Linked DNA regions of Homo sapiens: region 1 is linked to region 2. Evidence: fine-mapped expression QTL. A gene starts in region 2. The other region holds a variant in brackets. All regions are shown on one strand. Distances are from middle to middle. Region 1 overlaps PROM1 (prominin 1). Region 2 holds the start of PROM1 (prominin 1).

The links. PIP is the estimated chance that this variant, and not a neighbour inherited with it, causes the effect.
Region 1: its variant is fine-mapped to the expression of PROM1 in aorta (GTEx, PIP 0.94).

The regions. Positions count from the first base shown.
Region 1 is chr4:16,028,767-16,045,051 of GRCh38, reverse strand. PROM1 (prominin 1) reads left to right here. Exons shown (of 28, transcript NM_006017.3): 3 at 6,051-6,106; 4 at 9,291-9,317; 5 at 11,543-11,748. Among named protein-coding and RNA genes, the nearest start is that of PROM1, 47 kb to the left of the region's middle. RefSeq lists a silencer at 1,352-1,646 and an enhancer at 1,418-2,059. The variant G/C (reference allele first, on the strand shown) is at 9,591.
Region 2 is chr4:16,074,988-16,091,272 of GRCh38, reverse strand. It overlaps PROM1 (prominin 1), which reads left to right and starts at 7,250. Exons shown (of 28, transcript NM_006017.3): 1 at 7,250-7,295; 2 at 15,155-15,586. The coding sequence starts at 15,367. RefSeq lists enhancers at 11,975-12,064, 13,410-14,127, 14,128-14,845.

The DNA of each region.
Region 1 (16,285 bases), 46 kb after region 2:
AGGTGGGAGAGGCTAACATGTCTCTTAGCATCTGTAGTGCTCCGTATATTATATACCAGGCACTGTGCTGGACACTTTTCTTGGGGCAAGATGCCTCTCAATCTTCCATAGCCTGTGTAATGCCAGCACAGCCAGAGACTTACCACTTTTTGAACCATGTAGATTTGTGTTTTTTCTGGGCTTGTCAGTTCTACTTGGTTTGCCTACTTCCCCCTGTCCCCTCAGGAATTTTGTCTAGATAGGGGCAAGTTGTGAAATTTATTTGGAAGTGCCTGCAGAAAGTCTTATATGCCTGGAAAGAAACAATTATAGTTGCATTTTAATTAGTATTTAATTTACAAAAATGATGCATGTACAAACCTAGTTTCTGCAAGTCTCTAAATTGAATATTATTTTATTCTGTGTCTTTTTGGAAAATATGAATAATCTCTTTCACTTGAACAGTGTTGTTTTAATGTATGGGTTAACATATTAAATCCTTAGCACAGAGCCACGTGCAAGACCCCCTGAACTATGTGTGTTTAAGATGGGGCCACCAAAGGCAAAAGAGGGACCCTGTGGTCTCTCCGCAGAGAGGCACTTAACACTATTTATGCTCTTAATTAATCACATTTCTAAGTAAACACAAGTGCCCAAGCAAGCTGACTTACAGACACTATCAGCAAAATCTTTCCAAGAGCACTTAAGCTTGGCACAAATCTGATAAATCTACTGCAAACAACAGGGGATTTTAAGTTCTCTATTCATTTTACAAGAGAACATTATAGGGATAGAATTTCACTAGGCCCAGCTTAGGCCAGAATCTACATATGTATTCAGAGAAGCCAGTTTGGGAACAGAAATATCTTAGTCAAAGATGAGTTTTGACTCACATAAAGAAGACGGATCTGTTATAATATATGGGTCCTGCACAAGGCACATTTCTTATTTTAGCTTACTTCCGTGGCTCAGACATCACAAAACTCATAAATCGCACACATACGCACGCAGCCTGTTGGAGAAGCTCCTGCTGCATGTCCTGTTGAAGTGTAGTGAGAAACTGCAAGAGAATCCCACGAAGCTAAGACATCCTGCCAGCGCTGTCCCCTGACCTGGGGGGTGTGTGAGAGGGAGACAGACAGAGAGGCCCTGAGTTCCAGAACTCATTTCTGCAGACTTGGCTGCTGGCCACAGAAGGTCCATACTGAAGTTCACAGGGCTGCTCACTCCCAGGCCACACACCCTGGAGAGGCTGGCAGTCAGAGCTATGGACAGAGCAATGGATGGAGAGGCGCAGAACCACATCCCAGACAGCGTCATGGGGCAACCTGTGTGCTCTCAAGAGCAGGCTCCCCTTGTTTTCTGTATTTCGGGCTACAGTACACATCCCTGCCACCTTCTCAGCATGTGCAGTCCAGAAAAATATCCATTCAAAGTGGGGCTCCCGTGATGCTGCCAGGGCTGGTTCTCATGTGGGGCTTCAATTCTCAGTCTCTTGCCTTGCGCTTGGAGGACTGTGGCAGTGACTCCAGACCAACGTCCTTTCCAGCAGGGGCCTGGTGAAGGGTGGTGTTAGTGAGCATTTCTCCCCGGAAAAAGCCAAGGCTTAGCTGGGTGTGATGTGCATGCCTGTGGTCCCAGCTACTCTGGAGGCTGAGGCCAGGAGTTTGAGGCTGCAGTGAGCTATGATGGCACCACTGCACTCCAGCCTGGGTGACAGAATGAGATCCCATCTCTATGAAACAAACAAAACAAACAAAAAGCAGGAAAAGCCAAGACTTGAGTCTGTTGAGTCTGTCTCTCACTGGCTGAAGCTGGATTATCTGTTGACTCCTAAACCAAGTTATAGGGGTTGGGTGGATATGTTACTTGGCTCAGACCAGAAGGTCTCACTCACACACTGTGGGTCTCAGATCCGCTTTAACTCTTAAAAATTATTCAGGGCCCCAGAGAGATTTTGTTTATCAATATTTATCATATTTGAAGATAAAATGGAGAACACCTTAACATATATTTGTCAATTCATTTAAAAAGAACGATAATAAACCCTTTCCATAAATAACTTAATTTTGTTAAAAATAACTATAGTTTCCAAAAGCAAAAATCATGAGAAGAGTGGCATTGGTTTTTGCATTTTTGCAAATCTCTTGAACATCTGGCTTAGTGCAAGTCAGCTGGATTTTCATATCTGTATCTGGGTTGCTCCCGTTGAGGTACTGGGTGTTAGCTCCGTTGATGTATAGGGTGAACGTCTGCTCTCACTGAGATAGGTAGTTGTAAAAGAGAGCAGTACTTTAGTAGTCTTTTCAGATAATTGTGGATATTTTTCTTTAATACCACACTAAAACTGTGCAAGTGCTAGTTTTTAAAGGTTATTTGCAATGTGGAATCTGGAACCATGTGAATTAATTTTTTATAGTTTGATCTATTAACAGCCACTGGTCTGTCTTCCACTGTATTTATTTATTAAAAAAATTTAAATTTGTATAAATTTATGGGGTACAAGTGTAATTTTGTGATGTGGATACAGCACATAGTCGTGAAGTCAGGGCTTCTAGAGTATCCATCACCTGAATAATGTACACCGTACCCATTAAGTAATTTTTAATCATTTACCCTCCTCCCACCTCCTTGTCTTCCACTTTGAATGGATCTTTTTCCACGCAGGCTTTTGTGACATGATGCATGAATCTTTTGGAAAATATTCGTTCACTGAGTTTTGCACATCTCCCAAATGTGGACATATTTCATTTTATAGTATCAAAAATTCTTTAATATCCTTACTGATCACGTTAGAAAGGCATAAGTACTGGAATGCTGTCAAGCTCATGGTGGTGGATACGCACTTTGCAAAATTCTGATTTTTGCTTGAAAGCTCTAGTTTTATCATTGGCAACAAATCCTGTCAGTGGCTTCTTAAACTTGCAAGCTCCACTTCTTTCATTTCAGAGAAAATGCTGGCCAGGCACGGTGGCTCACGCCTGTAACCCCAGTGCTTTGGGAGGCCAAGGTGAGAGGATCGTTTGAAGCCGGGGGTTTAAGACTAGCCTGGGCAACATTGTGAGACACCATCTCTACAAAAAAGCAAATTAAAAAGTTATCTGTGCATGGTGGCGTGCACTTGTAGTCCTAGCTATGCAGGAGGCTGAGGGGAGAGGGGAGGATAACTTGAGTCCAGGAATTTGAGCCTTCAGTGAACCACGATTAAGGGCTGAGATTGGGTATATCTAAGTCTGAATAGTCACAATTTGTCTCTCAGCCTTTCATATATATATATATATATATATTTATTTATTTATTTATTTATTTATTTATTTATTTATTTGAGGCAGGGTCTCGATCTGTCACCCGAGCTGGAGTGCAGTGGCATAACTGTGGCTTAGTTGAACTCCTGGGCTCAAATGATCCTCCTACTTCAGCCTCCCACTACAGGTGCATGCCCCCACACTTGACTAATGTGGGGTCTCACTATGTTACCCAGTTGCCCAGGCTGGTCTCAAACTCCTGGGCTCAGCAATCCTCTGTCCTTGGCCTCCCACAGTGCTAGGATGACAGGTGTGAGCCACTGTGCCTGGCCATCAACTTTTCTTCCAAGTAAAGATGGTGTTCCATGAAAACTGTGGCTAGTTGAGCTCACAACTTAAAACACTTGCACAAATGCTTTTTGCACATTATACTTTGATGTATATGAAAGAGCTTTATGTGTAGTTACCATTTTTTTTTACACAGGATAATAAAAAGAGCTGTACTCATAGGTTGAAATTTAATAAAAATAATTTTTAATGCTTTATCAAGAGCCTTCTTAAGTGTAACTGACTATTGAACATGAGTGCCTGATGGCAAAGAATATAATGAGTATCAGCTGCCATCTTGATTTGTGCCAAATCACTTGCATTCTTATCTACCACCGCCTTTGCACCCTAGTGCAAATGTCAACACAACAAAAAAAGCAATTAACATCTTGTGTTTTGACCTCATGGACACCCTGAACATGTCTTGGGGATTCCCACAGCCCATGCTTGGAGACCCGCTGGTTCAGACCCGTGAGGATCTACCTTTGAGGTGCTGGGCTCACGGCTTCCCCAGTCCACGTGGCCTGAGAGGATGGAAGAAGCAGTTCCCCAGAAGAAATCCAAAGTTTTTCATTTTGTTTTTGTTTGTTTGCTTTTGTTTTGTAAGGGAAAAAAAAAAGTGAATGGATATTGAATGGCCAAAATAACAGTCTTCCACACTGCACTTACCATGGATACTGTTCTGTGATCTGCATGCTCTAAATTCCTTCATATAATGATAGCAGGTATATACCATGTGCCCACTGTGTGCCAGGCCCGGTGCTGTTTTATTTATAAATGTTTTCTCACTTCACCCTAAGTGGTCCTTTGAGAGTAGGGACGTCTTATTTTGCACATGAGCATGTTCGTAGCAGTTATTCACCTAAGATTAGACACACAGTTAAGTGGCGGAGCTTGGATTCCCTTCTAACTCGTTGCTAGATCAAGATCCCAAATTGCAACATATTATGCTGTGCAGCTAAGTATATTTTAATAAACAGATGATTTCTCAGTTTTTAAATCAACAGTAGACTCTTTCATTCAGTGAAATTTTAAACAATGAAATGTTAAAGCCTGATCTGTAAAACAGACCAAAGTAATGCTGACTGGTTGAAGGGGGAAGTAGCCTGTGTTGTCGGAAGGGGATTAGACAGCCTCAGTGTCCCTCTGGTCCTTGGGCAGCCCCCGAGGTACTGTGAAGAAACTATTGGGGTTCCCTGGGTACATATCAGTTTGAAAATCTCTGTTCCTGCAGCATAATCTTTAAACATCAGCCCATATCTCTGAGTTGTAGAGGAGAAAAGTTGTTTTGCAGAAAGCCTTGTGGGAAAGTGGCTTGCTTTGTTTTCCTATATGTTAATCTGAACTTTTTTGCATCAAAAAAGGAGTTGATGTAGTGTTTCGTTTGCCCCCCCATTAGTACATTTCAGGCGTGATGGATATAGTGATAGCACTGCAGAAGCTCCTTCCTGGGGTGAGAGAGAGTGTACAGGTGGCGGGAAGGCACCCGCACAGGAGAAGGAAGTCCTGAGCCTTGGTCTGGCCTCCTCACGAATCACTATGTCACCCTCTCTGTCCATGTCTCAGTTGTCTCATATCATTCTTAGATGGCTGCTCAGGGTTAAGAGGTGGCTCTTAGTCTTTTTTGGTCCCAGGCCTATGTGAGAATTTGCAAATACTCTAAATGAGTATTTATGGAAAAGTTCCAGTTTGCATTGCATAGGTTTTTATGCACTGCTTGGAGACAGGAAGAGAAGGATTTCCCATGTTAAGAACTCGAGTTGGGTTAATTTTTTTTTTTTTTTTGACAGTCTGGAGTGCAGTGGCGCGATTTCGGCTCACTGCAACCTCCACCTCCCGGGTTCAAGTGATCCTCCCATCTCAGCCTCCCAAGTAGCTGGGATTACAGGCATGCGCCACCACGCCTGGCTAATTTTTGTATTTTTAGTAGAGACGGAGTTTCACCATGTTGAGCAGGCTGGTCTTGAACTCCTGGCCTCGGGTGATCCACCTGCCTCTGTGTCCCAAAGTGCTGGGATTACGGGTGTGAGCCACGGCATCCTGCCGGGTTGAGTTAATTTTAAGATTCCTTTCATCCATTCCTTTGTAAAATATTAATATCAGGCAAATGTGGAATTATTGAACAATAAATTTCATTTGTGTTTCCAGACAATTAAGAATTAGCAATTTCAGCAAAATTTTTATAAATGATTATTAATAAGCTGTATGCGGTTTGCTGGTAAATATTAAGGTGTATTATGATAAATTACTAACTTAAAAATGACAACTCTCTAATTCTGTCACTGACAAAATAGTAAATCAGAAGTATTTGTCTTCTATTCTTGGCTTCTGGCTAGAGGTCATTAATTATTTACCTACATTAAGAAATAAGAATAAAATTATAAGAATAATAGAAATATAGGTATAATAATTTTTAAGCATATAAAGATCTTTTTCTAAATATGCATTTTATAATTTTACTGAAAAAATAATATTGCTATTTTGTGGCTTTTTTTCCAGATACTTTGAGAAAATTCTTACAGAAGGCATATGAATCCAAAATTGATTATGACAAGGTAATTTTTCATTGGTGTATTTATTATTAAAAATACGAAGTATGAGAAAAATTTTGGCTGACTTGAAAGTAAATCTTTAAATAACCAGTTATTCAATCTGCAATTTTAGTAATCTTTTTTGACTAAGAACTTTCATGGAATATTGAACCACCTTACAAATCCCATTTGAACCATAGCAGAAAGTTCAAAAGCGGCATTTGAAGAAAACCTTTCAAGTTGTATGTTACTTAAAAATTAAAAACTAAGGCCGGGTGTGGTGGCTCACGCCTGTAATCCCAGCACTTTGGTAGGCTGAGGCGGGCAGATCACCAGGTCAGGAGTCTGAGACCAGCCTGGCCAATATGGTGAAACTCCATCCCTACTAAAAATACAAAAATTAGCCGGGCGTGGTGGCACTCGCCTGTAGTCCCAAGTATTCGGGAGGCTGAGGCAGGAGAATCGCTTGAACCCAGGAGGCAGAGGTTGCAGTGAGCCGAGATGGTGCCATTGTACTCCAGCCTGGGTGACAGAGTGAGACTCCATCTCAAAATAAATAAACAAATAAATAAATAAAAACTAAAATTTCTTCAAAAAGAAATATTACGCTACTTTTCTTTTAGCTGAGGGATGAGAACTCCCTCATTAAGTAGAATTGTTTGAAAATTCCTAGAGATGGTGACTGTGTACTCTGTTATAAAACATCGTTTGTTAAAAAGTAGCTTTGCATTTGTATAAGGTTTATGAAGCTCCTGCTGTGTGAGGACATGGCTAGAAATGAAGGAAGGTGGAGATAAGGATGATAGCCTTTGGTCTCAAGAGGCTAGAAGACAGATAGCAGGGACCTTATCTAGTTAATGTAACAAGGATCATACAAGGGCAGAGCCGGTGGGATGGGTGGGCGCTCTTCTCACATTCCAGGCTTCAGAACATGTGAGCAAAGAGGTCAAGGTATGAAAGAAGCAGGCCCCTGGCCAGAGGGAGAGAAAAAAAGGTAAGTTGGGGCCTGATCCTGGGAGGGCCTTGAACGCCTCTCTTGAGTGAATCCATAGTATTTTCAGAAAGTATCAAGGCTCCTTGCATTTTTCTGCTTATTACCCAAGTTGCTGCCAATGCACTCCTCTGCGACTGCCTACCTAAACAGGAGAATGGTCTTTCGATTTTGGTGTGTTATGACTGTAGGTTGCCCATGAAGCAAACAGACAAAAGTGTGTAGCACTGAATGTAAGGTAATAAAAATTAGTTAAATGTGTTGGCCAGGTTCTCAGTCCTTCTCGGTAAGTAAAGCACTTTGTTCCTTCCTTTCCTGGTTTGAAGGCGGTTATCGGGCTACCAGTAAGCAGATGTATAGGTGGACGTTTTTTACTGGCCTGCACAACAAATCTGAATGCTAGTGTTTCCGGCATGGGAGAAGGCAGTTCCCTTTTGCCCAGTGAATCGTTACCTCAGATACGGTAGTTACAAATGGCCTCATCATATTCTTAACTTGCAAGAAAATTATACTCAAGAGAAAAGTAAATGCAGAAGAGGAAAGCCTTATCTAGAGGCTGTTTACATTCAGCAAGGGAAGACTGTGTGGAAGATGAACTGAGCTGTTCCCAGGGCTCACAGCCTTCCCCAGCACCGTGGAAAGCATTTTCATTCCTCAGTGCCACAGGCTTCATTTATATCTCCCAATGTGATTGTCACGTCGGCCTGTATCTCTGGGGGGAAGAAAATGACAGTTGCTTTTATATTTATATTCAAAATTAGCATAACATGCTTAGCCAGCCCGAATGCCAACCAAGGAATGAGAGTAGGGGCAGTGCTTCAGTGGGATCCGGGACTTGGAGAACGAGGTCCTGAGACCCTTAGGTGGCCTTGAGGAACCTGTGAGTCTGAGCTGGAGCTGGGCTGCCACCGTCCCTGGCAGGGTCTTTGTGCTTGACTTGGTATTAGATTTGGCACTCCCATAACCTTGGTTTATACCCCTGGCTCCTGCTCTCTTTCCTTGCCTTTGCAAATGAATAAAAACTCTGGGTGGGGGTGCAGTGGAGAGAAGATGCAGAACTGAGCCCACATGAATGAGCTGATTCCTACTCTAGATGTGGAACTGGACCATGCTTTCTACCATTATCCAAAGAAAGAGGTTAATTAAACAAAGGCACCAAAGGATCCAGGCCACATCTAGAGGAGGGCTTTCTGACTAGATTTAGTCTGATAAAGGCTGAGTGTGTTGGGTTGGTTCCCCCTGAAGCAGACCCTACACCAATGACTCCAGGGCAAGTCGTTTATTTGGGAGGCTCAGGGAACACAGATTCCTGGTCTTACCCATATCTTCTGACTCATGTGCTGTAGCAGAGGAGCCCAGGAGTCAATGTTTTTCTTTAACACACACTGTGAGGTGCTTCTTTGTGTCTGGTGAGCTTGGGAGCTTGTGCCCTGGTTGGTAACAAGCCTGCGTGCCCCTTCCCCAAGAAAGGGAGACCGGGATCATTTAAAATGCCCTGTGTGACCCCAGAGGCAGGTATATCTGAACTGCCCCCCAGTCCCAGTATTTTGGATGCCTCATTTAAAAGTGATTCCCATCACAAATGGTGTTCCCTCAGAGCTGTGAAGATCTGCCAGCTGAGGCAATAGTTTCTACACTTTTAGATTTCCTGGACCAGAATATTTCAAAAAAGTGATCTAGAAAATGACATAGAGCCACCTAATTTTATTTTGCCACGAAAGGACATTTAAAATCAAACATTGAGATGTTTGGAATAAAAATGGTGGGAATCCGTTGATCGCTTTAAGCATGGGAATAACACCATCAGATTTTTATTTTAGAAAAGGGCACTTGGGAAGATGCTGCCGTTGGTTCTGGAGTTCTCAGATCTGATTCTCTATTTTATGAAGATCACATGGTTAGTGTGTTAAGCATTTGTAACTTCCCCTCTAATTCTCCTTTGCGTAACCGATTAGCATACGGATTAAGAACCTTTTGGGAAATCCAAATGTAAATGCAAATGTAAATTTCAGAACTCAGAGCAACTTAAAACACTGTTTCTTGAATTCACACTCAAGTTTTATATTCCTTTCTCATGTTTATCCTTCTATCACCCAATTTCCTCCTTGTGGGATATGAATGTTCTTGGTTATGGTTGATCACTCATAACTTTTTCTGTCTGTTTTCTTGATGCATGCTGCCTCTGCCAAAATTCCTCACCTGCGTTGACTTCTACAGCCAGAAACTGTAATCTTAGGTCTAAAGGTAAAGTCCTTGTCTGCTATTTCAAGTTGCTCTTGGAAAGCCTTTCTGTTCTTCACTGTCATCCTCACTGTGAAGATTTTTAAATGATCCGTTTCATTTCTGTTTTTACCATCACTTTTAACCTTCTCTTTGAAGAAAGATATCTCTGTAATATTTACATGTTGATCTTCAACACAATCAACAAAGCACTGGAAGATCTTGGTGTATCAAAAAACAGTTTAAGTAGTGACAGGCCTTCGTCTAGTCGGCCTAGAAGTGAACTCTTGAAATGCC[G/C]TATCTTGTTCCTGATACTGCCTGATATTTAGTCAGTAACATTAGAAAGGCTGTGTTATCAAATGTACAATTTGTATTTAAAGCTAAAATTAGTGCATTTAAAACATTTCAATATATCTTCTCTCCTGGGTTTTGGTTCAGTGTCTCCTGGAATTCAGATAGAATTTACATTTCTTTAAAATAGTAAACAATTTAGAATATTTGCTGAGAAATGATGGAAAAATACGTAAGTAAGAGTTTGGAATGTCTGGGCTGGTTTCTTAACTGACAAGTGGTATTGGTCCTCGAGGAAGGGTTAAGTCCCCTAATAATGCCTCTTCGTGGACATGGGATGGGGGTTAGCTTAAGCGTGAGCACATACTTGATGAACCCAGCAAGATTCAGCCACTCTTTTTTTTAAGCAATTTAATCTTAATATGGAAGTAGATAATATTCAAGTGCCAGATGCACCAGATTTACTAGTCTTGAGCATTTGCTCATAGAGTTAACTACCATTTATTGAATATCTACTGTGTGCTGGGCACTTGGCTAGTTGTTTTCACATTCAGTCATTTAGTTATTTGTCCCTCACAATATGTTTATGAAGTTAATGCTAATGTGACACCATCCACTTTAGGGACCTGGAAGCCCCCTGCTGGGATGTAAAGCAGGTCTCTCCTCCAAGACATCACATTTGCTCCCAGGAACAAGACTCGTGTTTTATTTTCCTTTGCTCAGCTTGGCTTCAGAATTCGCAGCTGTCTAGATTGTCCATTTAGTTGCAAACTGCCAACTTGCAATTTTCTGCCATTCTTTAGAAATATAAGCAGCTACATGCATGAATTGGAATGACATCAAGTTTCATCATCTAGTTGCATTAATTTTCGTTTATCCCGGAATAAAGTCAGCAGTGATTATGAAAATATGTTTAGGTCACATGATTGTATCTAGAAATTGTGCTGTTCCTAGGAACTCAGGAACCGTCTGAGACACGGACTGCCAAGGTCGGTCCTTCACTGTGGATCTGGCTCCTGGGCATGGCATGAGAGGCACCTTTAGTAAGTGTCTACTCAGTGCTTGGTCCTTTGTCACATTATTTCTAATCATGCGTTATCTCTAATTTTCACAATGACTTGACAAGGTACGTATTATTATTTCCAGTGTATCAGAGGAGGAACCTTGTGACTGGCCTGTGTTTAACGTGCCTGACTTAGAGTCTGAGCCTTTTTTCTAAATTAAGATACATTCCAGATTCTTGAGTAATTGTTTGCCAGCCAATCCAAAGTGCTTTGAATCTTTAACTTCTATTTTTGCAGTGTGCAAAGCGCCTTATATGTAGATTGTTATGCAAGTACTCCTGCCAAGATTTATTGATCCATTTAAAAACAAACAAAATACCTTTGGGGTTAAAATTAAACCATTTGCAGCTCAAACTAGCATTTAGACATCTTCCTAGGGGTTGAAAGACATCTTCCAGTAACCACTTGGCCATGTATTTAATTACTCAATTCTCTGCTTCCTCTGTTTCAAAAAGGAGTTTCAAAATGGAAAAAAATACATACATATATATATATATATATGTACACATTCAGATTCAACTAATGATGGCAGATAGGTTAAAAAAATGAAACATGGCCAGGTGCGGTGGCTTACACCTGTAATCCCAGCACTTTGGGAGGCTGAGGCAGGTAGATTGCTTGAGGCCAGGAGTTCAAGACCAGCCTGGACAACATGGTGAAACCCTGTCTCTACTAAAAATACAGTACTCGGGAGGCTGAGGCCCAAGAATCGCTTGAACCCAGGAGGCAGAGGTTGCAGTGAGCCGAAATCGCGCCACTGCGCTCCAGCCTGGGCAACAGAGCGAGACCCTGTCTCAAAAAAAAAAAAAAAAAAAAAGAACTTTGTACACCATGGAATGTTCTACTTATTATTTTGTGCTACAATATGTGCTGTTTCTTTTGTTTGAATTGCAGATTGTCTACTATGAAGCAGGGATTATTCTATGCTGTGTCCTGGGGCTGCTGTTTATTATTCTGATGCCTCTGGTGGGGTATTTCTTTTGTATGTGTCGTTGCTGTAACAAATGTGGTGGAGAAATGCACCAGCGACAGAAGGAAAATGGGCCCTTCCTGAGGAAATGCTTTGCAATCTCCCTGTTGGTGATTTGTATAATAATAAGGCAAGTACAATATTGGACAACAACTGATTGTGTTTTAGGCTGATGAAGAGTGTCTCACATTTTTATGGTTAAACCATGAGTTTAAAACTAAACAAAATAGCAACAATGAAAAAAAAACCCACCAAACAGAAAAGAGAGAGCACAAGCGCTTGTCTAGAGTGATTCGAAAGGATCTCATTATCATCAGACATTAGCGTTGTAATGAAGCTGCCCCAGCTGAGCTGATGAGCCAGCCCTTTGGTATTTTTTTCCTCTTGAAGGTATCCTGAGAAATCTTGGACTGCAGAAAGGACTTACCTCCCAGCACAGCAGACTCCTCTTAATTAGCTATTTGCAGGCAGGCAGCATGCAGAAAAGAGAGATGGATCTGCAAGTTGATTTGCTAGTTGAGTCCAAAGGAATCTTGATGGACTGATGCAGTCCCTGAATTTGGAAATTTGAAAATATTGTAGAATGCAATTGACTTTCTAATAATAAACTCATTTTTCTTTTATGTGCTGTTAATCCGCTACCCTCCCTTAAGTCTGGAACACACTTCACGATTTAGGGTATTTCTGCTGCAGTGTCTGCTGCTTTCAAAAGTTTTCCAGTTGACTGGCAGATCAGAAATACATTGCTTTTAAGATGACGTTTTTTCGAGTCCAAATTAGATTGCTCATCTGAAGATGAGTGCGCCACAGCAGTGTTCCCTTGTTATGTTGCTTGGTTATTGTTCCACATTTCCTCATTCATTCCGCCACTGTTTCATGCAGCAGCAGAAATCAATGTGCCTATGACATGAAGGCACAGCAAGGGTTGGCCAACAGCATTCTCTTTGTTGTTTCTCCAAACACCACACGTGCTCAGTAGCCGTAAGATTTTTTTCAAGTTTTACTAAGGAAGTGATATTCAGGAATTTTAACAGAAAACAGTAAGTCCTGTGAGTTGGAGTTCTAGCTGCAAACCCAAGAAGGAAAGCCTTTAAGTGTGGCCACCAGCAGGGGTCTGATAAGATGTGTATGGCTTAGGGTGACCACTCATTGGAATGCAGTGTACCCATTGAAGAGGACTGGGCAGCTCTGGATTTGTTGATACCAGTCACCATGACAGATGAAGTGAAAAAGCAGGTTGCAGACCATGTGTAGAACATGGTAACTATGTTAAAAAAAAAAAAGATCAGGAAGGAGACACAAGCACTGGGTCATATTTTTATAGAGCAGATGGGATGTGAAAGGGTTGACAAGAAACTGGCAACAGTGGTTGCCTCTGGAAAGGAAATTGAGGGTTGTGGAGGGGAAGGAAGGAAACTCATTTCTTGCTGTAGCTGGGCTTTTTGTCTCTTTTGATTATGTACCAGGCTCGGGTATTACCTATTGAATTAACTTAACTGAAACTTGAACAGTGACAAAAAAAATCTTCACAACAGACAAAGGCCAATGCATTACCACTTACTCCAGGGCAGTGACTATTTAAGCAAAGACATACTTTTGCTCATAATAGTGGAATAATCGACCTTAACTATATATGTGTGTAAACAAGATCCAAGTGAATGTGTTAGCTGACTTCATGCATTGTTGGTTAGCCTGAGAGTTACTTGTTTTGTCTCCATGACATTGGGGTGTGGGCATCTCTGCCTGTCAATCTCTCTCTCCCTCTCTCTCTCTCTTTTCTTCCCTTTTCTGTCTCTCCTTGCCTCTCTGTATTTTTCTGTCACTGTCTGTCTCTTTCTCTGTGTCTCCAAAAATCATTTGATCCTTGCTATTTTTTTCACATTTGATTTTGAGAGGCAGTTTGGGATCAGGTCAGTAGTGGTCATTCCAAATGTCCCTGTCTCTCTCTGCTTTGTATTTGATATACTCTAAGGAATGCACAGACTCCTAGTTATAGGGGTAGTTACCTCTTTTTCAGCTACCAGAAGAATCTCGGTTACAGCCCTGAAACCTGTCAAACCCACCAGGGATCCCTGGTGTGTTTCCTGTAAGCCTGAAACTTACACGCCACATTTGTCTAGACACTTGCACAGCCATGTTTACCCGCTCCATACACCCTGGACCTCAAAGATGAGACTCGGATGTGAAAGCATCATCTGAAAATATTGCCCTTAGGGCTTCTAGTTAGAATGATTACTTATTTAACAAGTTAATAATTTTCACTTGATGTCAATACATATAGTATAATTTCAGGAAAATTCTTTATTGAATGTAGTTATTTATTTACCTGAATAAGTGTTTACATGTGTAATAATCGGTTTCCAATATATTGGGTTTCTTTGTTTTTTTGAGACAGAATCTCGCTGTGTCACCCAGGTTGGAGTGCAGTGGCGCTATCACAGCTCACTCCAACCTCCGCCTCCCGGGTTCAAGTCATTCTTGTGCCTCAGCCTTCCTAGTAGCTGGGATTACAAGCATGCGCCACCAGGCCCGGCAGATTTTTGTATTTTTAGTAGAGACGGGGTTTCACCATGTTGGCCAGGCTGGTCTCAAACTCCTGGCCTCAAATGATCTGCCCTCCTCGACCTCCCAAAGTGCTAGGATTACAGGTGTGAGCCACCGTGCCTAGCCACTACAATGGGTTTCTTTTTCAAAATTGAACTTTTATTTGCATTACATATAGTTATGTGTTATGCATGTTATAGTTCACTCTCAGCTGATTGAGTTATTTACATTATGTTGAAAATGCCAAAATATATCAACAATAAAGCTACAAAGTAAAAAATAAACTTGGCTTCCATTTATATATAAAATGAAAGCTACCGTTTTGTTAATTCTTGAGAACTCAGACCTATCAAATCAATATATGTTTTTTCTAAGTATATTTTAATTTAGAAAATTCTTTTTAAAAATGCATGCTGTGATTCTATACCCTCCTACACATTCAGTTAAAACAATTTTTTTCCCCACCCAAGTAAAACATTAATGTGAAAATTGTAATTTTAGATTTCAATATAATTAAACCAAAATTGATCAACTGAGATTGTGACAAAACTAAAACTAATTTGATTTCATATAGCACATTGAATTTATGTATAAATTATAAATAGGCTTAAATAAGAGTAGTGTGTGAATTTTTTTTTCTCACTTTAAATTCTGATGAGAATTTAAGCTTCTTTGCCTTGAACTTTTTGATTTACGGTAGCTATTTTAATGGCTTCCTTTTGAAACCCCCACTGGTTTGCAAATACCTTAAACATCATGAGTTGCATAATACCTACATATTGTTTGCAAGTAATCCAAGCTAGGCAGGAGGATTAAAGACCTGGGGAAAGTTAAGATTTCTCTATTATGAGTAGTTAGACAGGAGAAGAAAGAATGTCAACAAAATCAGAAGATTAGATAAAAATAAGAAGGACAAGAATGTCAACAAAATTGGAAGGCAGAAAGGGAAAGAAAGGAAGTGGAGGGAAAGATAGGAGAGTGGACTCTCTCTTGTTTAATGCAGGGCCTCTAGCTGACATTGACTTCAGCGGAGATGGGACACTATTGAGAAATAATCTTTGCATGTGATTTTTAAAAAATTCTTTCAGAAACCCAGAGCAGTCCACCTGCCTTTTATTGGACTCAATTTCATTTTGTGGCTCAAAATATTACAATTAAATGCAGTTGGTTTTCAAGTTAGTTTTGAGCATCCTTTTTTATTTTAAAAAATGTAAATCTTTTCTTTAGGGGGTGAAGGGAAGACATAGGTGTTAAGGAGAAAGATGCCCTAGCAGATGTGCAATCTACGTGGGCATGTTCTTTCTCTGAGGGTTCCCAGAGGCAGCTGTGGAATGTGAGAATTCCGTAGACACTGACATATGTTTATGCAGTCTGTTTGACCATCAGCACAAGATCGAATTTCCACCCCTCACTGTAGACTGTTAAGCAGATGTGTCTTACTCCAGAAAAAGCCAACTTTCTTCTCCTTTCTTTCTTTTTGCTTGTCACCGCTGCATTTCTCATAAAGGTTATGGAAGGAAAAAAAAAAACCATGACTTGACTTCCTTTGTATGTTTCTAAGTTTCTGAGTATGATAAGCCAGTCTTGCTAATAATTCCCATGGTGAATTGAATTCCAGTCATTTTCAGGAAGCTGGCTATTTTCAAAGTTCATTTTATACTAGGACGTGATTGCCAATTCCTGAATGGGAGGCTACAAGGTTGTGGAAAAAAGATTGAGCTAGATGTAGCAGTCCTGAAAATCATGAAACTTTCTTCATGTGAATGAGGTCTGGTTACTTACAGTTTAAATGTAATTTTTCTGTTTTTTAATAAGAGAGCTGTTATAGACTGAAAGCATTTGTTTGGCTTTCTTTGGCTAATTTTATTAAATCAGTAGAAATTGGTAAGAGCAATACAGTTACAAGTTTTAAAGTAAAGGTTTAAAAGTAAGGTTTAGCCTTACTCTGTAAAAAGCTTGTAAGTGTATATGTGAGAAAATTGTTTTTTCCATAATAAAATATGGAAGATGTAAGGCCATAAAAATAAAAATTCCTATCTTCTGCTAAAAATTCTAAGAGATTTTGTTGTACTGCTTAAAAGCATATGTTTTAGATTGTTTAAAGGCATTTATGTCAAATGCCA
Region 2 (16,285 bases):
TTACTGATGGAATGACTGACTAACAGATGCTTAATACGTACTTTCAGATGATGATGGGAATAAGGGCAAATTAATAAGTCTTTAGAGAAAGCTAGTCATAGTAATTATTCCCAGAAAGGTAAAACATTGCTTATCATTGACATATGTTTTGCTGTTCTATAAATTGTAAGTTGTTGGGTGAAACTTTTATGGATTATGATAAAAATTGACAACTATAGAATCAGAAATTATGGAATTCTCCTGGCTGCCCGCTTCAGCAATCCCTCCACAGCACTTCGGTGGATGGAATCTCCCCTTCCTGGAGCAAGTGAGAGAAAGTACCCGGATGCTTTTTGTGCTGCTCTCCTTTTTTCCACATGGTTACTAAAGGTAAGTTACAAAGCCCCATTGGAGTTGGCGCATATTAAAAATGATGTCAGAGGGAAACGCACAGATGAAAGCTGGCTCTAGAGATGAGAACTTTATTTGAAATGATCATTGAAAACCAGATTTTGACTCGTGAAAGATAAAACTACTCTTCACAGCCCCCATCAACGTGTGACTGAATTTTCCAACTGCTCCCCAGCTTTCACATTCCGAATCCAAGCTCTGAGGCTCCATCTTGCCCTTTCCTCCCCTTTGTTCAAGCTGGATTGAAGTTTTCTTCCTCTGCCTTTGAGTTAGTGTGGAATGGGTTTGATGACAAGTTACGAATCATACCTGAAGGTGCTTGAAGTACAAGAAGAATGTTTTCCTGGCTTTTGGTTATTAAACACCAGCAATGCTATTTTGGTATCCAAGTGCAGAGCAAGGAAGGAAAAAAAAAAACCAAAAAGACCAGAGGAACAGGAACTCATGAAGTTAAATATTTACAGGACAACTGTGGCTTGCATGAAGCTATTCAATCCCCCTCTCTCTCTTTCTCCTTCCTCTTCTCCTTTCTTCTCCCTCTCTCCTTGACTATCTGGTACACAAATTTCAGTCTTAAGAGAACAGAGCAGCATGTGATGAGATGACACAGCTCTCTTTCTTTCAGGGTCATATCCTGCCATGTGTGTTGGTTATACAAACACATAATTTTTTTTTTAAAGCATGGTTATTCATGGTAGAAATTATTAGGTTAATTGGAATAATTTGAGCACAAACCTATTTTGTTTTAGTCTTAGTGACTCAGAGAAAAATAACTAAAACCTTTCCTCAGCCGCTAGCCCATGTGGTCACTGAGCACAGCTATTGTGCTGATGAGGAGTGTAAGGCTCAGGAAGGTTGCTGACTTACCAGGGCCCATGTTGGCAGCTGATGGAGCCTGAATGAATCTCCTGGCTCTCAGTCCAGTTCTCTTTCTAGAACATCATGCTATTTCATGATTAGATTTCATCTGGGCAGGAAAAATGAGCAGTAATTTCAGAAAGGGACATCTAAGCTTTTGCATCTAATGACTCTGAGTGTGTGTGTCGGAATAAACATCTCACCCTCTAGCCTTGCATGTAACAAATGACATAGGCATTCAGTTGAGCTAAATTGCTGGATTGTAGAATGAGAGTTCCAAGTGGAATTGAATGGAACAAATCCTTAGGTCTTGTCACTGCCTGCAAAAGGCTGCCCAGACTAGGTCATAATATTGTGTTCTATGTTTATTATTAATTCACTCACTTATTGAACAACCACAATGGTCCAGGTGGAGATGTTGGTATATGGTATGGAAATGGGTGAAAACAGTTGAAGCATTTGGTGCCCTACCGTAAGGCAGATAGCCACCCATTTCAATCCAATGTGGCAGTGGCCTGAAAAGGTTTTATGTTATCTTCTGGTGCATTGGTGATCATGGGCCAGATCTGAGTTCAAATTTAGTGCTTGACTTACTACCTTGGTGACCTCAGGTTACTGAACCTATTTTAGCCTTATCTTTATGATAGAGATAATATGATCTCAAACTGCTGTTGTTGCTAAGGTTACATAAAATAATTCATTTAAAGCACTGGGCCCAGCGCCTCATTCATAGTAAATGCTCGTTAAGTGTGGGTGTTACTCTCACTACTTCTGTTTTTTTTTTAATTTAAAATTTTTGTGAATACAGAGTAGGTGCATATATTTATGGGTTATGTGAGATATTTTGGTACAGGCATGCAATGTGTAATAAGGCATAAGGGTAAATGGGGTATCTGTCCCCAAAATCATTCTTGTTATTGATTTCTAGTTTTATTCCACTGTAGTCAGGGAAGATGCTTGATGCTATTTCAGGTTTTTAAAAAATGTCTTAAGACTTGATTTGACCTAACATATGGTTTATCCTTGAGAATGATCCATGTGTTGCAGAAAAGAATGTCTATTCTGCAGGCATCGGATGAAATGTTCTGTAAATATCTATGAGGCTCATTCTACAGTGCAGATTAAGTCTGATGTTTCTTTGTTGATTTTCTGTCTAGAATATCTGTCCAAAGCTGAAAGTGGGATGTTGAAGTCTCCAGCTGTTATTGTATTGAGGTCTAGCAGTCTCTTTAGCTCTAATAATATTTGCCTTATATGTCTAGATGCTCAAGGGTTTGGTGCATATACATTTACAATTGTTAGATCCTCTTACTGAATTGAGCCTTTTCTCATTATATGATGACCTTTGTCTCTTCTGATAGTTTTTGTTTTGAAGTCTGTTTTGTCTGATATAAATATAGCTACTCCGGCTCTTTTTTTGGTTTCCATTGGCTTGGAATATCTTTTTATGTTCCTTATTTTCAGTCTATTTGTGTCATTATAGGTCACATATGTTTATTGTAGGCAATAGACCAATGGGTCTTATTTTTTAATCCATTCGCCCACTCTATGTCTTTTGATTGCAGAGTTTAGTCCATTTAATTCAATATTATTATTGATAAGTAAGGACTTACTCCTGCTCTTTATTTGCTTTTTGGTTGTTTTGGGGTCTTCTCTTCCTTCTTTCATTTCTCCCTGTCTGCCTTTTAGCAAAGGTAATTTTCTCTGGTGGTATGATTTAATAGCTTGCTTTTTATTTTTGTGTATTCATTGTGTTTCTTTGACTTGAAGTTCTCGTGAGCCTTGCAAATACTATCTTCTTATAACCCACTATTTTATGTTAGTAATTACTTAACACTGATTACATAAACAAAGAAAACTAATAAGAGCTCTACACCTTAACTTCCTCCCCTTGCTTCTAAACTCTTTGTTGTTTCTCCTTATATTTTATTGTGCTGTCTATGTCTTGACAAGTTGTCGTAGTTATTATTTTTGATTGGTTCATCATTTAGTCTTTCTACTTAAGATAAGAGTAGTTTACACACCACAGTTACAGTGTTATAACATTCGGTGTTTTTCTGTGTACTTACGATTACCAGGGAGTTTTATATCTTCAGATGATTTCTTATTGCTTGTTAACATCCTTTTCTTTCAGATTGAATAACTCCTTGTAGCATTTCTTGTAGGACAGGTCTGGTGTTGATGAAATCCCTCTGCTTTTGTTTGTCTGAGAAAGTCTTTATTTCTCCTTCATGTTTGAAGAATATTTTTGCTGTATATATTATTCTAGGGTAAAAGTTTTTTCCCTCCAGCAGCTTAAGTATGTCACGCCACTCTCTCCTGGGCTGTCAGGTTTCCACTGAATAGTCTGCTGCCAGATGTATTGCAGCTCCATTGTTTGTTAATTCTTTCTTTTCTTTTGCTGCTTTTAGGATCCTTTATCCTAGACCTCTGGGAATTTGATTATTGCATGCCTTGGAGTAGTCATCTTTGGGTTTATCTGCTAGGTGTTCTATACAATTCTTGTATTTGGATATTGATACTTTTCTATAGGTTTGAGTGGTTCTCTGATATTATCCCTTTGAATAATCTTTCTACCCCATCTCTTTCTCGACCTTGTCTTTAAGGCCAGTAACTCTTAGATTTGCTTTTTTAGGTAATTTTCTAGATCTTGTAGGCATGCTTCATTATTTTTTATTCTTTTTTCTTTGTCTTCTCTGACTGTATTTTCTAATAGCCTGTCTTTAAAAGTGCACTATTTCTTCTCCTTAATCAATTCTGCTATTGAAAGACTCTGATGCATTCTTCAGTATGTCAGTTGCATTTTTAAACTTGAGAATTTCTGCTTGATTCTTTAAAATTATTTCAATATCTCTATTAAATTTATCTGATAGAATTCTGAATTCTTTTTCTGTGTTATCTTAATTTTCTCTGAGTTTCTTCAAGATATTGATTTTGAATTCTCTGTCTGAAACATCACATATCTCTATTTCTCCAGGGTTGTTCCCTGGGGACTTATTTAGTTTGTTTGGTGAGGTCATGTTTTCCTGGGTGGTCTGGAAGCTTTTGGATATTCATTGGTGTCTGGGCATTGAAGACCACCCCAAGAGCCTGCTTAGTACTCTACCTCCCTGTGGCTGAGCTGGTACCTAAGGGGAAGGAAAACATCCTCTTTACTTTTCCTTCTGCTTTTGTCAAGCAGAAGGAGTCTCTCACATTAGCCACCACAGTTGGGAATATACTGGGTCTCACCTGAAACCAGCAGATCTCAGAGTCACACCCAAGAACCACAGTGTACTACCTGAGTATTGCTTCTGGCTATTGAGAACCCAAGGGCTCTTTAGCCAACAGGTGATGGGTCCTGCCCAGACTGTTTCTTTCCCTTCAAGGCAGCAGTTTCCCTTCTGGCCCAGGATGTGTCTAGAAATGTTATCCACAAGTTAGGACCTGGGATGGGGGTCTGATGACTCAGACTGATGCCCTGTCCTACTGTGGCTAAACTGATATTCAAGATAACAAAGTCCTCTTTACTCTTCCCCCTCTTCTCTTCAAGCAGAAGGAATGGGTCTCTTCGTGCTGTTTTTAATCACTCCAGCCACTAGCATTGGGACTGATGCAGACACTAAGGATCCAAATGATTATTTTTGTTTTGTTTTTTTAACTGCATTGGGATTAGGCAACAGAAGGGTCTAATGTGGCTGAGAGTTTTTGAGAGAGGAGCATTTTTAGGAGGGTAGCTGCATTCCAAGTAGAGAGCTCTGCTGGGGTAAAAGAGGCATGAGTGCTAGAAAAGGGCATGCAGTGATGAAGAGCCACTAACAGCACTACCTGGGGTTGGGGTAGGGGTGTCACAAGCACTCCCTTAGCTCCCCTGTCTGGTGTCTCAGTAAGTCGCATGCCCTCCAAGTCTACTGGCTCTGAGCTCAGCATTTGGGCTTGCTTAGGAGTTGCTGTCCTTGTGGCCTAGGCTGCCTTTAAGGTTATTTGGGGCCCCAGAGCACTTTACTGAAACTCAAGTTTTCACCACTGGTATGGGCTATTTCCTCTGAGGGAAATTGGCTGAGTTCAGCCTAGTTTTGCTTTCTGCTATGACAGAGCAGTACTGAGTTCAATTCAAAGTCTCCCAATCACTGCACTCTCCCTTTCCCAAGCCACAAGGCTGCTGCTGCTGGGGGATGGAGGACTGGCGGCATTGGCAAATCAAAACTGTCTTTCCTGGCTTCTTCAGTGCCTCTTTCAGTAATATGAAATTAAAACCAGGTATTGTGGTTACTCACCTGATTTTTGGTTCTTATAAAGGTGCTTTTTGTGTGTGTAGATAGCAGTTAAATTGTGTTCCTAGCCGGGGTGGGGGGTGGGTGGTCAAACCTTCTATTTGACCATCTTGCTTCACCCCTTTCTACTGATACTATTGTTGTTGATATTATTAGGAATGAAAATGAGCCCTGTGAGTTATAATTGTCTTCATTTTGCAGACCAGGAAACTGAGGCTCAGAGAAATATTAAGCAGCCAAAGTCACAGCGATTAAAAGAGGCGGGACCAAACTTTGACGGAGATCAGGACCCACTCCTTTGAGAAATCACCTCTTTTGCTAGCTCCAGCCTAAAAGTGCTATCTAGGAGAAGGTTTATGGGACCCCAGCAGATGTTCAACCAGAAACTTCTGACCTGCAGGGGCTGCAGAGGGGAAATCTGCCCTGATTAGAAGAGATTTGTTTTCCACCCATATTAGTTTGATCTCACATTGCTATAAAGAACTACCTGAGACTGGGTTTCAGAGGCTGTACCGTAGGCATGGCCAGAGAGGCTTCAGGAAACTTACAATTATGGTGGAAGAAGGGAAAGCAAGCACATCTTCACATGGCAGAAGGAGAGACAGAGCGAGCAAAGGGGAAGTGCCACACACTTTTAAATCATCAGATATCCTGAGAACTCACTCACTATCATGAGAACAGCAAGGGAGAAATCCGCCCTCATAATCCAATCACCTCCCACTAGGTCCCTCTCCCAGTGAATTATAATTCAATATGAGATTTGGATGGGGACACAGAGCCAAACCATCTAACCTTGCCATGTCCTACTGTACTTTTTGGAAGTTTTCTGAACTAACATTTCTTGTCTAGAAATATACACACTCAAGATCAATCTAACTATTAAAAACAAAAAATGCTTATTTTCCAGTACCTGTTTTATGTTAGATTCTGGGGTAAAAAGAAAAAGGTACTGACTTAATGTTCCTGTCTATCATTCATTTGTAGCTTGTGCATCCATCCTTTCATCTGTCTATCCATATCACAAACATGTATTAAACACCTGCTGTATGCTAGACACCATCCTGAAGGTGCATTTCTTCCCTAAGTCTTTTTTTTGCCTGCCGGAGAGTACAGTATTCTCAATTCAAGATAAGAAGTGGTGAATAAGAGTGAAGTGCAAATTGGTGAGGACACTTAGACACCGAGTGATTACTTCTGACAGGTTTCCACCACTCAGCTAAGTAGCAAGGTGAAGACTCCGAGGTTGAGTTGTAACTCACAGAGCGGGAAGACCAATAGGCAGTGAGAAAAGAAGTTGCAGTGGCTTCACGTTATAGCAGATGCCTGTGTGTACACATGGGAGCGAATATGGCTTTATGCTGTTTTTCAACCGCTTCAGCCACTAGCATTGGTACTGCTGCACACTAAGGATCCAAATGATTGTTTTTTTGTTTTTTGTTTTGTTTTGTTTTGTTTTGTTTTGTTTTAAATTGCATTGGGATTAGGCAACAGAAGGGTCTAATGCGGCCGGGATGAGACAGGAGAGTTTTTAGGAGGGTAGCTGCATTCTAAGTAAGGGACTCTGCGGGGGGAAAAGAGGCGCAAGCGTTGCAAGAAGGGAGTGCAGGGGGTTGAGCAGGCACCTCTACAGGAAATGGATGCTGTCCAGGTGCTGGTGGGCGCCCCAGGGCTACGTGGCGAAGCAGCTCAGCCGGTCCAATCAGAGTGCGTCCAGGGCTCGGGTTTCGCGATCTTTAAGTGACTGAGGCAGATCCCCACGCGGCACCTGGCCATGCTCTCAGCTCTCCCGCCGCGGTGAGTATGTTTAAGGAATCCTTTCCATTACGGCGGCCCCATACCTAGGTCCCCGTCCGGGACAGAGGAAGCCGCAACGGGTCCCCCCGGGCACCCGGGCCTTTCTCCTGCCTCCCGCCACGTCCGAGGGTCCGGCCGCAGCGCCGCCTGAGCCCCTCCGCGGCCGGCAGTGGGAGGCGGGCTCTCCGAAAGCCGTCGCGGTGGTCCCAGAAGCCGGGTCATAAATAATTCACGAGCCAGGGTCTGGCGAGCTAAGGGAAGGGCGGCGGCAGCGGTGACTAGGGCGGGAGCAGGAGCGGGAGCCGGGTGCACGGTGAGTAGCTGGGTCCTCATCCCGGAGCGAGAGAGGCATCTGCTGACCAGGCGCGGGGCTGAGCGCACTCCTTCCACTGTACTGGGGGTGTACAGTGAGGAGTGGACGGGTTCGCTCTGCGCCCCCCTTACCCTAGCCATCTGCGCCGCCTCCCTGGCCCCTCAGCAGGTGGTGCGGGCCCGGACAGCGGCTGGGGGCCAGAGGAACTGCGGGGAGAGCGTGGTGGTGCCGGTGCCCGTCCAACCCAAACTTTTTAGTCTGAGTGGTGGCCCGCGACGCCCCGCTTGGGTCTTCTTTCCATCCACTGGGGATGGGGGCGGGGGTGGGGGTAGCCGGCGGCCGTGGTTCCGGAGCGGGAGTCGGAGGTGAGTGTGCGAACTGGACCGGGGCCCCAGAGACTTCGGACTCGCTCTCGGGGAGAACGGTGACCGAGGTGAGACTCGCCAGGGTCTTGGGAACGAGTCTGCGGTAAAGGAAACTCTAGGGATGGCCCCGGGGACGTGAGGCGCTGAGCTTCCCTGGCTGAGTGCGGAAATGGGCCAACACTGTGCAGCCGACCACAGCGGGAGTAGGGATATGGGGGTACAAAGCGAGGCCATCTCCCCGCGTCCGTGGGAGAAAGCATGCACCCCTGGCTTGAAGCACCTTCCCAGCCTCTCGCTCCACGGCCCTTCTGCTTGCATGCGCGGGGACCCGCGGCTATCGCTAGATGGAGAACTGGGGTGCTCAAGGCGCACCCTGCCAGAACACGCCGACCGGACAACAAAGAGGAGCGTGGACAGACCAGGAGCTTCACGGCTGTAGAAAGTCAGAGGCTCGGGATCAGTTTCCCCGAAAGCCCGTGTCTGGAGGGGCAGGGAGTCGGATCGGAGGGAGGAACTAGCTCCAGAACCCCTTCTCTCTGGCAAGATCGCCCCCGATCGGTGCCCAACAGGGGCCGCGGCGGGGAACTGGCGCCGACGCGCTCAGAGCAGCCAAGTTACTCCGGCAACCCCCTCCCCTGCGCGGCTGCGAATTCCTGGAGTCTCTTGGCTTCCCGCGCCCGCCCCGCCGCTCATTCTTTTGTGTCCCGCAGCTCGCGAGAGGCTTCCGCCCAGAAGGGAGCTAGGCCTGGAGGGGGCTTGGCCTGGAGGTGGTTTGGAGGTAAAGGGCGGGGAAGCCGGCGCCCCAGGCTTCATTCTGCAACAGGTTGCTCCTGGAGCCCGCTAAGGCGACTGACCTTTCTGGAGAAAGGTTTGCTGGAGTTCCTGAGGGCGGCAGCTGTTCTTTGTTAAGAAAGCAAGTGCACGATCGTAGTTCTTGAGTGCCCCCCGAGACTCATGCGACACGAACAACCGCTGCGATATGTTGGGTTGAATCATAAGAAATTGTCGGTTTTTTGGATGGAAGATGTGAATATCGTCAACCTCATATGATTCAACTTGTGTGATGTTACTCATTTTTCTTTTCTCACCGTCCTTTCTGTCCCGGTTATCCTAGGAGCCCCGGTGGAGTTGAGCTCAGAGTATTGATGCTAGCAGAAGCAGACAGACCCCAGATAGCCTTCCAGCTGCGTGCCAGGTGCTTTACCTATTAGATCGCTAGCCTGCGAACCCTATGCGAAATCCTCCTTTGACAGAGGAGCAGAAGAAGGGTTGGAGAATTCAAACAACTGTCATCTTGGCAGAGTTAGTAAGGGGGACCAGAGCCCCCTTACTGTTGCTGTTGTCTGTCTATTCAGCAGTGCCCTTTAGTTTATTCTTGTTTTTTTTTTCATGTGTTCCATAATTTTTTTCTAAACTTCCTTCTGATTTCTAAACTTTTCTAAACTTCTTTCTGATTTCTAAACTTCCTTCTGATTTTTATACGAGACAGTTTCTTTGTGTTTTAGTACAATGAGGTGAACAAATGCATCAGAGGACAAGCTGAAAACTTTAAACCAAGTTGGTACTGTTTAAAATATAAAGGAAATAGGTTTTTCAGGGAGCAAAGAGCTATTTCTGAGATTTGTTAAGGGTCAAGATACTTTGTTAAAACAGTGGAAGCTGAGTCGGGGGTAATTTTTATCAGATAAAGGACTTCTTGGATTCTGTAAGTTGCCTGTTCACTCTGATGGTAGTTTCTTTTGCTCTGCAGAAGCTCTTTAGTTTAATTAGATCCCATTTGTCAATTTTGGCTTTTGTTGCCATTGCTTTTGGTGTTTTAGACATGAAGTCCTTGCCCATGCCTATGTCCTGAATGGTATTGCCTAGGTTTTCTTCTAGGGTTTTTATGGTTTTAGGTCTAACATTTAAGTTTTTAATCCATCTTGAATTAATTTTTGTATAAGGTGTAAGGAAGGGATCCAGTTTCAGCTTTCTACATATGGCTAGCCAGGTTTCCCAGCACCGTTTGTTGGGAATTGAACAATGAAAACACTTGGACACAGGAAGGGGAACATCACACACCGGGGCCTGTTGTCAGGTGGCGGGAGTGGGGAGGGATAGCATTAGGACATATACCTAATGTAAATGACGAGTTAATAGGTGCAGCACACCGACATGGCACATGTATACACATGTAACAAACATGCACATTGTGCACATGTACCCTAGAACTTAAAGTATAATAAAAAAATATATATACATATACATATATATATGTATATGTATATATATAAAAGGACTTCTTGAAAGGATGGTCCCTGGGTGGCTTAGGTAAGTGGCAGCAAGGCTGGCTAGCCAGGCTTAGGAATCTAGGACATGCCACAGGACCCCTGATGGGTGGGTGGCTGCGGCTGCCAGAACAGGACCCTGGATGTGGCTACTGGCATTGCTGCCATCATTGCTGGAATGAATTAGATACTGTCCTGCTTCAGAGTGCGCAGGCCCAGGCCCAGAAGAAAGCTTCTGATTGGCCCAGCATGGCTCAGCTCCACCAGGACACAGTTTGGGCGCCTCAGCTGACCTCACAATGCAAGGCAGGGCTGCCTCCCACCCAGCTCACAAACGTGGTCTCAGATGTTGGGTATCCCCCATGCCCCCGCCAAAAGCACTCCAGATGACAAAAATCCACTACAAAGCTCTTCTTTAAAAAGAAAGATTCTGAGAAGTTCCATCAAAAGAAGAAAAGAAGAAATGAAGGTGATTGATCACCATATTTGCTTTTTCATTTTTAATTTTTTTTTTTGAGATGGAGTCTCTGTCACCCAGGCTGGAGTGCAGTGGCATGATCTCAGGTCACTGCAACCTCCGCCTCCCGGGTTCAAGTGATTCTCCTGCCTCAGCCTCCCGAGTAGCTGGGACTACAGGTGTGCACCACCACACCTGGCTAATTTTTTTTGTATTTTTAGTAGAGACAGGGTTTCACCATGTTAGCCAGGATGGTCTCGATCTCCTGACCTCGTGATCCGCCCGCCTCGGCCTCCCAAAATGCTGGGATTACAGGCTTGAGCCACCACGCCCGGGCCATATTTGCTTTTAAACCAGTATTGAAATGCAGTTCTCTGGACTCCAGGCTCAAAATCATGTAAGGTCGCCCAGGCTGGAGTGCAGTGGTATGATTATGGCTCACTACAGGCTCAGCTTCCTGGACTCAAGTAATCCTCCTGCTTCAGACTTCCGAGTAGCTGGGACTACAGTTGTGCACCACTACGTTTGCTAATTTAAATTTTTTTTTTTTTTTTTTTTTTTTTTGTAGAGACAGGGCCTCTCTATGTTGCCCAGGCTGGTAGCAATTCTTCATTGAGTACCAACTGTGTTCCAGGCTCTGGGGATACAGAAATAAGCCAGGGACCTGCACAGCAGCTGGGGTAGATCAATTCAAAGCAATATGAAAAGGGCATTTGGGGAGCTTTCACCTTACATGTGTTATTTTCCAATGTGTTTGGGAAGCCTGAAGTGTCCTTGGAAAGTGACATGAATTGACTAGGCGGGTACTCCAGGATCAGAGTACTCCAGGAACAGAACTGTTCTCAAACTTTGTTTGAAGGATCAGTCCCCAGGAAAGCTTGTTAAAAATGCAGATTAATGGGTTTCATCCCAGAAATTAGGTCCATTAATAGTCTGCATTTCAACTAAACACCCCATTTTATCCCGAGACAGATGCTACTCTCAGTGGCTCTCGGACCTAGTGGGGTTTAGCTGGTAAATACTCAGAGCTTCTGTTTTTGGCACAACCTATTAAACCCGAGATAAAAAACTCTTCCTCTTTGACTTGACTTTAATCAGTTTCTAGTATTTCATAGTTAGTGAGATATTAATACTTTCTTAAAATGTACTTTAAAACTTCAGAGGGACCTACATTTTGGAGCAAGATGTAAAGAAATCTGGAAGTGCAACTGCAGTTGCTGTCTATCTCAAGTCATTGTCTCCCATCTTTGCTGCGGTGAGCAGTTATGTTTCACTTCACTGGGAATTTCCCTTCCCCTGCTTTGTCACTGAGGGAGTTGGAGAGCCTGTTTGTTCATAGTTCTTCCCTTGGCAGTTTCTCTCTGTCCTGGGCTGAGGTTTGGTGGAATTACCAGAAAGTGGGCCTTCTCAGCATCTGAGCCTTTAATCCTTCCAGCTGCTGTGCTGGAGGCTTAGCTCTCTGCCTGTCCTTTAGCAAAAAAAAAAACCAAGATAAAGTGTACATGTGGTGTGTTGTGCTTGCAGTAGATGTTTGAAGGGAGCCCTTTGGAAACACCAGGGTCAAGGTGTCTATTGTGGATGTGACGGTGGGCGTAACCTGAAGCGTGGGCCTGAGGTTAGTACTGGCAGCCACTTGGGATCTGAGCAGCCCATGATTTGACAAAGGAAGAATTTGGGGCCCTTGTATTGGTAGCTTTGTGCAGGAGTAATTGGAGTGGGACAGGACTTAGAAGATGAGGCAATGGAGGGATTAGATATGAATTAACATCTTTGTTCAAATAGCTCAAGAAATCCCATCTGTTGTCCAAAGCTTTCTTTGACTTGGAATATTGGTAGTGGGTCCTCTGGCTTCTTGCAAAGTATGTCACCTTCTTCATCATCCCCCTTCCCTTTCTTACAGTATGTGTTTCAGGAGCACCCTGTACTTATCTTGAAAGTTAGTAAGTATGTATCTAGCTCACAAAGTGACAGCAGCTTGCTCTTGCTCCAGGACACTTAATACAGAGAGGAAGAGTGGTACACTTGGGATCCTTCCAGGTTCTGTGCTGATTTGCCTAGTCTCATGAAACCGCACAAGGAAATAACATATTTTGGCTTCTACGCCAGCACTTGCCCTGTAGCTCTGGAGCAGGCTGTGTTTGGTTTCCACCCACCTACCTGGATTAGGCTGAAGGCCCTGCTCTAAAGCTTTGCAGCCTCCTGTCTGGGGCACTTCTTGCTGCAGGCAGGTTACATGCATTGGTGACTCTGCTGCTATTTCTTTCCCTGCCAGGGATGGTGCCATGAGTGAAACAAGCTGCTCAGCAGGCACTTACTAAACACCGACTACGTGCCATGCCCAGTGTTAAGGTCTGGGGATTGAAAGAAGAGTAGGACAGAGTCCATCTTGGAGGCACTTTCTGTCCCATTCCCTTCCCAGATGCTGGAGCCACAGCTGCTTTTAGGATTCTTGTGTCTTTCTCCGTCTCCCAAGGGGTAGGTAAGAGTCTCCCTCTGCCCTGGCTTTCATCTCTGAGACCCCTAGTTGTAGAGGTGGTGACTTAGGGTGAAGATTTCCATCAGGATTACTTGGTAAGCTTATTAGAAAGACAGGTTCCAGTGTTGCACATGTGTCCAGCCTCAAACGGTGTGGTCCCTAGACTTGAGGCCATGCCCTTCTACTTTGGATTCGGGGTGAGGTGGAGAGGGGGATGTTTGAAATGAGATTAGTGAGTAAATAAGTAGAATATAAGGCAGAGTAAGATATATCTCCAGCGGCAAAGAGAACAACACACACTTGGAGAAGAAATAAGCATATAAGCATGTACTGGATTGCTGGGGCCCCAGTGGCTCGTACTAGAGCCTGAGAGGGAGGGCACTGAAGGGACAGTGTCTTGATGTCATAGTTAGATCTTGGACTTTGAAGGCAAACTAGTGGGTTTGACTCTTGGCCGCATGGTTAATTGAAGGGGTGGGTTGCCCCTCCACACCTGTGGGTGTTTCTCGTTAGGTGGAACGAGAGACTTGGAAAAGAAAAAGACACAGAGACAAAGTATAGAGAAAGAAATAAGGGGGCCCAGGGGACCAGCGTTCAGCGTACGGAGGATCCATCCTGGCCTCTGAGTTCCCTTAGTATTTATTGATCATTCTTGGGTGTTTCTCAGAGAGGGGGATGTGGCAGGGTCACAGGATAATAGTGGAGAGAAGGTCAGCAGATAAACACGTGAACAAAGGTTTCTGCATCATAGACAAGGTAAAGAATTAAGTGCTGTGCTTTAGATATGCATACCCATAAACATCTCAATGCCTTACAGAGCAGCATTGTTGCCCGCATGTCCCACCTCCAGCCCTAAGGCGGTTTTCCCCTATCTCAGTAGATGGAACATACAATCGGGTTTTATACCGAGACATTCCATTGCCCAGGGACGGGCAGGAGACAGATGCCTTCCTCTTGTCTCAACTGCAAGAGGCATGCCTTCCTCTTATACTAATGCTCCTCAGCACAGACCCTTTACGGGTGTCGGGCTGGGGGACAGTCAGGTCTTTCCCTTCCCACGAGGCCATATTTCAGACTATCACATGGGGAGAAACCTTGGACAATACCTGGCTTTCCTAGGCAGAGGTCCCTGCGGTCTTCCGGCCTTCCGCAATGTTTGTGTCCCTGGGTAGTTGAGATTAGGGAGTGGTGATGACTCTTAACGAGCATGCTGCCTTCAAGCATCTGTTTAACAAAGCACATCTTGCACAGCCCTTAATCCATTTAACCGTGAGTGGACACAGCACATGTTTCAGAGAGCACGGGGTTGGGGGTAAGGTTATAGATTAACAGCATCTCAAGCTGAAGAATTTCTCTTAGTACAGAACAAAATGGAGTCTCCTATGTCTACTTCTTTCTACACAGACACAGTAACAATCTGATCTCTCTTTCTTTTCCCCACATTAGGGAGGGCACTGAAGGGACAGTGTCTTGATGTCATAGTTAGATCTTGGACTTTGAAGGCAAACTAGTGGGTTTGACTCTTGGCCACATGGTTAATCACCTGTGACCTTGGGCAAGTCACCAGAATCCTCTCTGTGTCAGTTTCCTCATCTGCAAAATGGAATAATGCCTTAAACAAGGAGGACCTTGTTTCTATCTATGAAGCATGGAGAACAGTGCCTGGAAGATAGTAAGTGCTCAATAAATGTTAGTTTCCAAGATCTCAAGCTTTCTCTACAATATTTAGTATTTCCCGAACCCATAAAGGGTCTGTGTTCTGAGTCTGGCCCTCCTGAGAAGGGACCTTCTGTGAGTCATGGCTTTGATGCCAGCACCTGCCCTGTGGCTCTGGAGCAGGTTGTGTGCTTGGTTTCCACCCACCCATCCGGATTAGGCTGGAGGCCTTGCTCTAAAGCTTTGCAGCGTCCTCTCCGGGCAGCTCCAGGTGCAGGCAGTTTACACGCATTGATGACTCTGCTGCTGTTTCTCTCCCTGCCAGGGATGGTGCCTTGAGTGAATGACCCCCTTGGAGAACATTCTTCCGCATCCCTCGCCTCAAGCCAGCCTCAGACAGAAAACTGAAGATTCAGCAGATCCAGTGCTTCCTGCTCCTCTTCTGCCCAGGAACACGCTTGCCTTCCCCAAGGCTTCCAGAAGCTCTGAGGCAGGAGGCACCAAGTTCTACCTCATGTTTGGAGGATCTTGCTAGCTATGGCCCTCGTACTCGGCTCCCTGTTGCTGCTGGGGCTGTGCGGGAACTCCTTTTCAGGAGGGCAGCCTTCATCCACAGATGCTCCTAAGGCTTGGAATTATGAATTGCCTGCAACAAATTATGAGACCCAAGACTCCCATAAAGCTGGACCCATTGGCATTCTCTTTGAACTAGTGCATATCTTTCTCTATGTGGTACAGCCGCGTGATTTCCCAGAAGGTAAGTGCTGATGGCAGGGAAAGATAGGATTTATCTCCAAACGCACCCACAATATTGTTTTTTAATGTCAATGCAATCAATATATAATATATTCAGTATTTTAGCGATTGCTTTGCACAGAAGCAGAAAGCATTTAGACAGAAGTTAAGAAGACTTGTACCAGGTTACATAGGTTGCGAGGAATGTTATTATAAGAAATGGAAGCAAACGATGTTGCTATGTTGGTTTTCCACTTCTTTACCTTTTGTTTTGCTTGGTTTTGCTTTGTTTGGGTTAGAGCAATGAATTATTCTAAGGCACTTACCAAAGGTAAAAGTTAGAGTAAAGTTAGGGTAAAAATGCAAATTGTGTGTCATCAAAGGAGAAACGAATAACTAGCAACTGATGGCCACCTCATCGCTTAAAAATTTAACTCTCTTCTGCCCACCACAATATGCAAATTTTGACATTGCTTAGGGTAAGGACAAACATGTTTACTTGATCAGCTGTTTTCTTCATTTCTAAGAGCTTGGGTGTGAGGAAGAGGATTGGCACTTTCCAGAACTGTCATGCCATAGTGCTGTTATTCATCACACACAGTGCTGTTTGTCATTTTCGCCTTCTTAATGTTTGTTGTTTTCCATACTCTTCTGAATTCAGGGTATGTGTTCATAGAAAAGGGATTATGAAAGTAAAAATAGCCTGTGGGAAATATCTGCT